2 linked regions of the Homo sapiens genome follow. The protein of the gene in region 1 purifies or fractionates together with the protein of each later gene. This does not show direct contact. Each region holds a gene or a part of one and is shown in the gene's direction. Other genes may lie near its edges.

The links.
Region 2: the proteins of ATMIN (region 1) and OAS2 purify together in Homo sapiens (affinity purification with mass spectrometry; one large-scale study listed by BioGRID and IntAct). This does not show direct contact.

Annotation. Positions count from the first base shown.
Region 1 is NC_000016.10:81,042,110-81,045,933, forward strand, and holds part of ATMIN (ATM interactor), read left to right. Parts: intron 1-171; coding exon 172-371; intron 372-1,051; coding exon 1,052-2,861; 3' UTR 2,862-3,824. UniProt on the Homo sapiens protein: Transcription factor. Plays a crucial role in cell survival and RAD51 foci formation in response to methylating DNA damage. Involved in regulating the activity of ATM in the absence of DNA damage. May play a role in stabilizing ATM.
Region 2 is NC_000012.12:112,981,349-112,985,172, forward strand, and holds part of OAS2 (2'-5'-oligoadenylate synthase 2), read left to right. Parts: intron 1-3,824.

The DNA of each region.
Region 1 (3,824 bases):
TATAATTAACTGCGATGTTCCTGCTTTTACATTCTTTTGACTTGGACTGCTGTATTTTATGTTATTTATATTAATAGTGTAAAATCATTATTAATTTGGGTGTATGATGGTTTCTGAAATGTTTTGACCAGTTGCTGTTTTTCACCTTAGTCCCTTCTGCGTTCCTCCTAGCACTTTATGAAAATGCATGCTGAGAAGAAGCACAAATGTAGTAAGTGCAGCAATTCGTACGGTACAGAATGGGACCTGAAAAGACATGCAGAGGACTGTGGCAAGACCTTCCGGTGCACATGCGGCTGTCCCTACGCCAGTAGAACAGCACTGCAGTCTCACATCTACCGAACTGGGCACGAGATACCTGCAGAACACAGGTGAAGGGAAAGAAATGATGGCACAGAAGTCAGTAGCTATGGGAAGCATTTCAGATGAAACATCCTGGAGAGCCAGTGGTGTGGGGAGGAAAAAGGAATCTTAGAAAATGTGTGACGTGGAAGAAGGAAGCTTTTGAAAATGGAAGCAGGTCTTGCAAATGACACATGTCTGGGCCTGAAATCTTGACCCAATTGTTCCCCCTATTTTTTTCTGCCAGCCCTCTTTGAGAGTCCCTTGTTATTTCCATTTGAAAATCTCAGCTTCCAGAATTTTCTATCAGAGGGAACCAAACTGCCAACAAATAAGTTTTATCATGAAACTGTACTTCATTTAAAGGTCAAATTTTCATTTAGTGTGATAGCTTCCTGCCTTAGAAATGATAAAACTTGCATTATGTAAGTCTTTTAGCTTCTTTTGGCTTAAAGATCTGAGTTGAGTTCTAGTACTTAGAGCTTAACAAAAGGTATGTTTCCTCCTTCTCTGTTTGCATGTTTCTCAAAGTTCACCTGCTATAATAGGACCAACTCCCAGAGTTGCGAAAGAATGGATTTATCTTGTCTGGGTTGAACATGACCTCTGCTATAGATGGGGGAAATGGCATTTGTAAGTGAGGATAGAGTGTCATGGTCGAAGAAAGTTGTATTTTAAGGTTTTCTTTTTGCTCTGTCATTGTTTTCAGGGACCCACCTAGTAAGAAAAGGAAAATGGAAAACTGTGCACAAAACCAGAAGTTATCCAACAAGACCATTGAATCATTGAACAACCAACCAATCCCTAGACCAGACACTCAAGAACTAGAAGCTTCAGAAATAAAGCTAGAACCATCTTTTGAAGACTCTTGTGGCTCTAACACTGACAAGCAGACTCTTACAACACCACCGAGATATCCTCAGAAGTTGCTTTTACCAAAGCCCAAAGTGGCTTTGGTTAAACTACCCGTGATGCAGTTTTCTGTCATGCCTGTCTTTGTGCCTACAGCCGACTCCTCAGCCCAGCCTGTGGTGTTAGGTGTTGATCAGGGCTCTGCCACAGGGGCTGTGCACTTAATGCCCTTGTCAGTAGGAACCCTGATCCTCGGCCTAGATTCAGAGGCTTGCTCTCTTAAGGAGAGCCTACCTCTTTTCAAAATTGCTAATCCTATTGCTGGTGAGCCAATAAGTACTGGTGTTCAAGTGAACTTTGGTAAAAGTCCATCTAATCCTTTACAAGAACTAGGGAACACGTGTCAAAAGAATAGCATTTCTTCAATCAACGTGCAGACAGATCTGTCTTATGCCTCACAAAACTTTATACCTTCTGCACAGTGGGCCACTGCTGATTCCTCTGTGTCGTCTTGTTCTCAAACTGATTTGTCGTTTGATTCTCAAGTGTCTCTTCCCATTAGTGTTCACACTCAGACATTTTTGCCCAGCTCTAAGGTAACTTCATCTATAGCTGCTCAGACTGATGCATTTATGGACACCTGTTTCCAGTCAGGTGGGGTCTCCAGAGAAACTCAAACCAGTGGGATAGAAAGTCCAACGGATGACCATGTACAGATGGACCAAGCTGGAATGTGCGGAGACATTTTTGAGAGTGTTCATTCATCATATAATGTTGCTACAGGTAACATTATAAGCAACAGTTTAGTAGCAGAGACAGTAACTCATAGTTTGTTACCTCAGAATGAGCCTAAGACTTTAAATCAAGATATTGAGAAATCTGCACCAATTATAAATTTCAGTGCACAGAATAGTATGCTTCCTTCACAGAACATGACAGATAATCAGACCCAAACCATAGATTTATTAAGTGATTTGGAAAACATCTTGTCAAGTAATCTGCCTGCTCAGACATTGGATCATCGTAGTCTTTTGTCTGACACAAATCCTGGACCTGACACCCAGCTCCCATCTGGCCCAGCCCAGAACCCCGGAATCGATTTTGATATCGAAGAGTTCTTTTCGGCCTCAAATATCCAGACTCAAACTGAAGAGAGTGAACTTAGCACCATGACCACCGAGCCAGTCTTGGAGTCACTGGACATAGAGACTCAAACGGACTTCTTACTCGCAGATACCTCTGCTCAGTCCTATGGGTGTAGGGGAAATTCTAACTTCTTAGGCCTTGAGATGTTTGACACACAGACACAGACAGACTTAAACTTTTTCTTAGACAGTAGCCCTCATCTGCCTCTGGGAAGTATTCTGAAACACTCCAGCTTTTCCGTGAGTACTGATTCATCTGACACAGAGACCCAAACTGAAGGAGTCTCCACTGCTAAAAATATACCTGCTCTAGAAAGCAAAGTTCAGTTGAACAGTACAGAAACACAGACCATGAGTTCTGGGTTTGAAACCCTGGGGAGCTTGTTCTTCACCAGCAACGAAACTCAGACAGCAATGGATGACTTTCTTCTGGCTGATCTGGCCTGGAACACGATGGAGTCTCAGTTCAGCTCTGTAGAAACCCAGACTTCTGCGGAACCACACACAGTCTCCAACTTCTAAAACTAACGGTGGAGTCCATGTGTGAAATGGCATCTACCATTTCCTCTGGATTAAAACTACGGACTGGGGACAACAGTATTAATTCGATTGAATGTGGCTGATGATGCAGTTGCTTAGCTTCTTTGTGTTTCTTTGCCTTTTGTACTTGTAAACAGAAATTTGCGTATAAATGTGAGTGTATTATAAAGTTTGAGATGTTGATCTAAATTGTTTTTGTGTTGCCTACATTTGCCTTTTCACAGCTAGTCTTTTCATGTTAAAAAAAAAAATGTATTTCATATCTATAAAACCTATATAGCCATTTAGCTGAAGCCCAGCTTACCAGGTTCAAGGGTACAAACTTCTCAAATCTTCAAAACATTTTAGTCAAAGTGTAATATACTTAAACTGCACCTAAAATATCTTTGGCACTGCTTGTTAGAAATTCCTGATTCCTGTTACTAATCACTAAAGAAACCGGATGCTGCCACCGTAGGATTTAAGCAGTAGTGCTTCCATGCTCTTAAGACTCCTGCTGCCTGGACCTTCGTCAGCTTTGACACCTCTTTTCTGATTTAAAGACACCAAGGAAAACTACAACTGTCTTTAGCTTTGAAGCAGTTTTCATGTAATCATTGCCACCTCTTCGCTACATGAACTACTATTGATACCAGCATACAAGTGTACAGCACTTTACACACAAGAGGTTTATTGATGTAAAATTATCGGCTAGGGAAGCAGCAGCGGGCCAGGTGTGGTGGCTTACCCCTGTAATCCCAGCACTTTGGGAGGCCAAAGCAGGACGATCACTTGAGCCCAGGAGTTCAACACCAGCTTGGGCAACGTAAGAAGACCGTGTCTCTGGAATTTTTTTTTTTTTTTAATTAGCCAGGCACAGTGGCATGCGCCTGTGATCCCAGCTACTTGGAAGGCTGAGGTGAGAGGATCACTCGAGGAGATTGGGGCTGCCATGAGCCATGGTCT
Region 2 (3,824 bases), on another chromosome or scaffold:
AGGCCTTATGTTTAACTCTTTAACCCATTTTTAGTTAATTTTTTATAAGATGACAGACGGGGGCCTAGTTTCATTCTTCTACATATGGATATCCAGTTTTCCCAACACCATTTATTGAAGAGAGTATCCTTTCCCTAATGTGTGTTCATGGTGCTTTCTCAATCAGTTGGCTGTAAATTTGTGGATTTGTTTCTGGGTTCTCGATTCTGTTCCTTTGGTCTATATGTCTGTTTTTATACCAATCCCATGCTGCTTTGGTTACTATAGCTTTGTAGTATATTTTGAAGTCACGTAGCATGATGCCTCTAGCTTTGTTCTTTTTCCTCAGTACTATTTGGCTATTTGAGATCTTTTGTGTTTCCATACAAATTTTAGGATTGTTTTTTCTATTTCTGTGAAAAAAAATGTCACTGGTATTTATAAGGATTGCATTGATTCTGTAGATTGCTTTGGGTAGTATGGTTATTTTAACAATATTAATTCTTCCAATCCATGAGCATGGGATGTCTTTCCATTTGCTTGTGTCACCTTCAGTTTCTTTTATCAGTGTTTTGTAGTTTTCACTGTAGAGATCTTTCACTTCCTTAGTTAAATGCATTCCTAGGTATTTTTGTTAAATACTATAAGATTGCTTTCTTGATTTCTTTTTCAGCTAGTTCATTACTGATGTGTAGAATATGTTGGTATTTTGGTATGTTGGTATGGTATGTTGATTTTGGTATTTTGATTTTGTATCCTGCAACTTTACCAAATTTATCAGTTCTAAGAGGTTTTCTTGGTGGAGTCTTTAGGTTTTTCTGTATAGAAGATCATATGGTCTGCAAAGAGGGGCAATTTGACTTTTTCTTTTCCTATTTGGATGCCTTTTATTTCTTTATCTTTTGGGATTGCTTTGGCTAGGACTTCCAGGATACAGGCTGAAAGCCTTTCCCAATTCAGTATGATGTTAACTGTGGGTTTGTCATATATGGACTTTATTATGTTGAGGTATGTTCCTTACATGCCTAATTTGTTGAGGGTTTTTAGCATAAAGGGATGTTGAATTTTACCAAATGTTCTTCTACATCTACCAGGATAATCATATGATTTGTCCTTCATTATGTTGATGTGATGTGCAAATGTTCAACATTTGTTGACTTGCTCATGTTGAACCATCCTTGCATCCCTGGGATAAATCCCACTTGATCATGTGTTATCTTTTCGAAGTATTATTGGATTTGGTTTGCTAGCATTTTGTTGAAGGTATTTGTATCTATGTTCATCAGGGATATTGGCCTGTAGTTTTCTTTTTTGTTGTGTCTTTGGTCTAGTTTTGGTATCAGGGTAATGCTGACTTCATAGAAGTGGTTAGGAGTAATTCCCTCCTCTTCAATTTTTTTGGAATAGTTTGAGAAGAATTGGTGTTAATTCTTCTTTATAAGTTTGGTAGAGTTCAGCAGTAAAGCCATCTAGTCCTGGGCTATTCTTTGTTGAGGAGTTTTTTATTACTGATTCAATCTACTCACTCACTATTGGTCTGTTCAGGTTTTCTGTTTCTTCCTGGATCAATCTTAGTAGGTTGTATGTGTTCAGGAATTTATCCATCTCCTCTAGGCTTTCCAATTTGTTCACATGTAGTTGTTCATCATAGTCTCTAATGACCCCTTTTATTTCTGTGGTATCAATGGTAATGTCTCCTTTTTTATCCCTGATTTTATTTTACTTGGGTCTTCTCTTTTTTTAGTCTATTTAGTCTAAGTAGCGGTTCATCCATTTTGTTTATCTTTTTAAGAAACCAACTTTTTATTTTGTTAATTTTTAGCCTCTATTATGTTTAGTTCTGTTCTGATTTTTATTATTTCTTTCCTTCTACTAATTTTAGGTTTGGTTTATTCTTGCTTTTTTGTTTGTTTTTGAGATGGATTTTTGCTTTTGTTGCCCAAGCTGGAGTGCAATGACGTGATCTCAGCTCACTGCAACCTCTGCCCCCTGGGTTCAAGTGATTCTCCTGCCTCAGCCTCCTGAGTAGTTGGGATCACAGGCATGCACCACCACGCCCGGCTAATTTTGTATTTTTAGTAGAGACGGGGTTTCACCATGTTGGTCAGGCTGGTCTCAAACTCCTGACCTCAGGTGATCCACCCGCCTCAGCCTCCCAAAGTACTGGAATTTCAGGTGTGAGCCACTATGCCTGGCTTTTCTTGCTTTTCTAATTCCTTAAGATGAACCGTTAGGTTGTTTATTTGAAATTGTTCTACTTTTTTTGATGTAAGCATGTATTGCTTCAAACTTTGCTGTATCCCTTAGGTTTTGGTATGTTGTGTTTCCATTTTCATTTGTTTCCAGAAATTTTTTGATTTCCTTTTAAATTTCTTCATCAGCCCAGTGGTTGTCCAGGAGCGTGTTGTTTAATTTTCACGTATTTGTACAATTTCCAAAGTTCCTCTTGTTCCATTGTGGTCTGTATCCATTGTGGTAAGTATCCATTAAGATACCTGACAGTATTTCAATTTTTAAAAATTTGTTGAGCCTTGTTTTGTGACCTACCATAGGGTCTATCCTGGAGAACATTCCCTGTGCTGATAAGAATGTGTATTCTGTAGCTGAATAAATAATCTGCAAATATTCATTAGGTCCATTTGGACTATAATGCAGACTAAGTCCAGTATTCTTTGCTGAATAAATAATCTGCAAATATTCATTAGGTCCATTTGGACTATAATGCAGACTAAGTCCAGTATTTCTTTGCTGATTTTCTGTCTACGTGATCTGCCCAATACCAAAAGTGAGATGAAGTTCCCAGCTATTACTGTATTGGCAGTCTCTCGGTCTCTGTTTAGCTCTAATATTTGCTTTACATATCTCAGTGCTCTACCGTTGGGTGGTCATACATATGTGTATAAATATACATATACATATATATGTCTATATACATATATACACATACTTATATCCTCTGGCTGAATTGATCTCTTGATCATTAATTATAAAATGACCTTCTTTGTCTCTTTTTATGTTTTTGACTTAAAGTCTACTCTGTCTGATATAAGTATAGCTACTCCTGCACACTTTTGGTTTCCATTTGTGTGGAATATTTTTTCCATTCCTTCACATTCAGTCTATATGTATCTTCACAGATGCAGTGAGTTTATTGGAGGCAGCATATAGTTGGACCTTATTTTTTATCCATTCAGCTTGTCTGTATCTTTTAACTAGAGAATTTAAACCGTTGTTAAATTCAGGGTTGTTATTGATAGGTAACAACTTACTCCTGTCATTTTGTTATTTGTTTTGATTGTTTTGTACATTCTTTGTTCTTTTCTTTCTCTTTATTGCCTACCTTTCCAATTGTTGGGGGTTTTGTAATGATAACATTTGACTCCTTTCTCTTTGTCATTTGTGTATCTGCTCTACCAGTGAGTTTTATACTTTTGTGTGTTTTCATGATGGTAGACATCATCCCTTTGCTTCCAGATGTAACACTCTCTTAAGCATTTTCTGTAGAACTAGTCTAGTGGTGATGAATTCCCTCTGTTTTTGCTTGTCTGGGAAAGACTTTGTTTCTCCTTCATTTTTGAAGGATAGCTTTGCTGGGTATCGTATTCTTGTCTGAAAGGGTTTTTTTTTAGCACTTTGAGCATATCATCCTATTCTCTTCTGACCTGTAAGTTTTCTGCTCAGAAATCTGCTATTAGTCTGAGGAGAATTCCCTTATATGTGACTTTATACTTTTGTCTTGCTATTTTCAGAATTATATGTTTGTCTTTGACTTTTGACAGTTTGACTATAATATGCCTGCAGAAGACATTTTGGGGTTGAATCTATTTGAGAATCTTTGAGCTTCC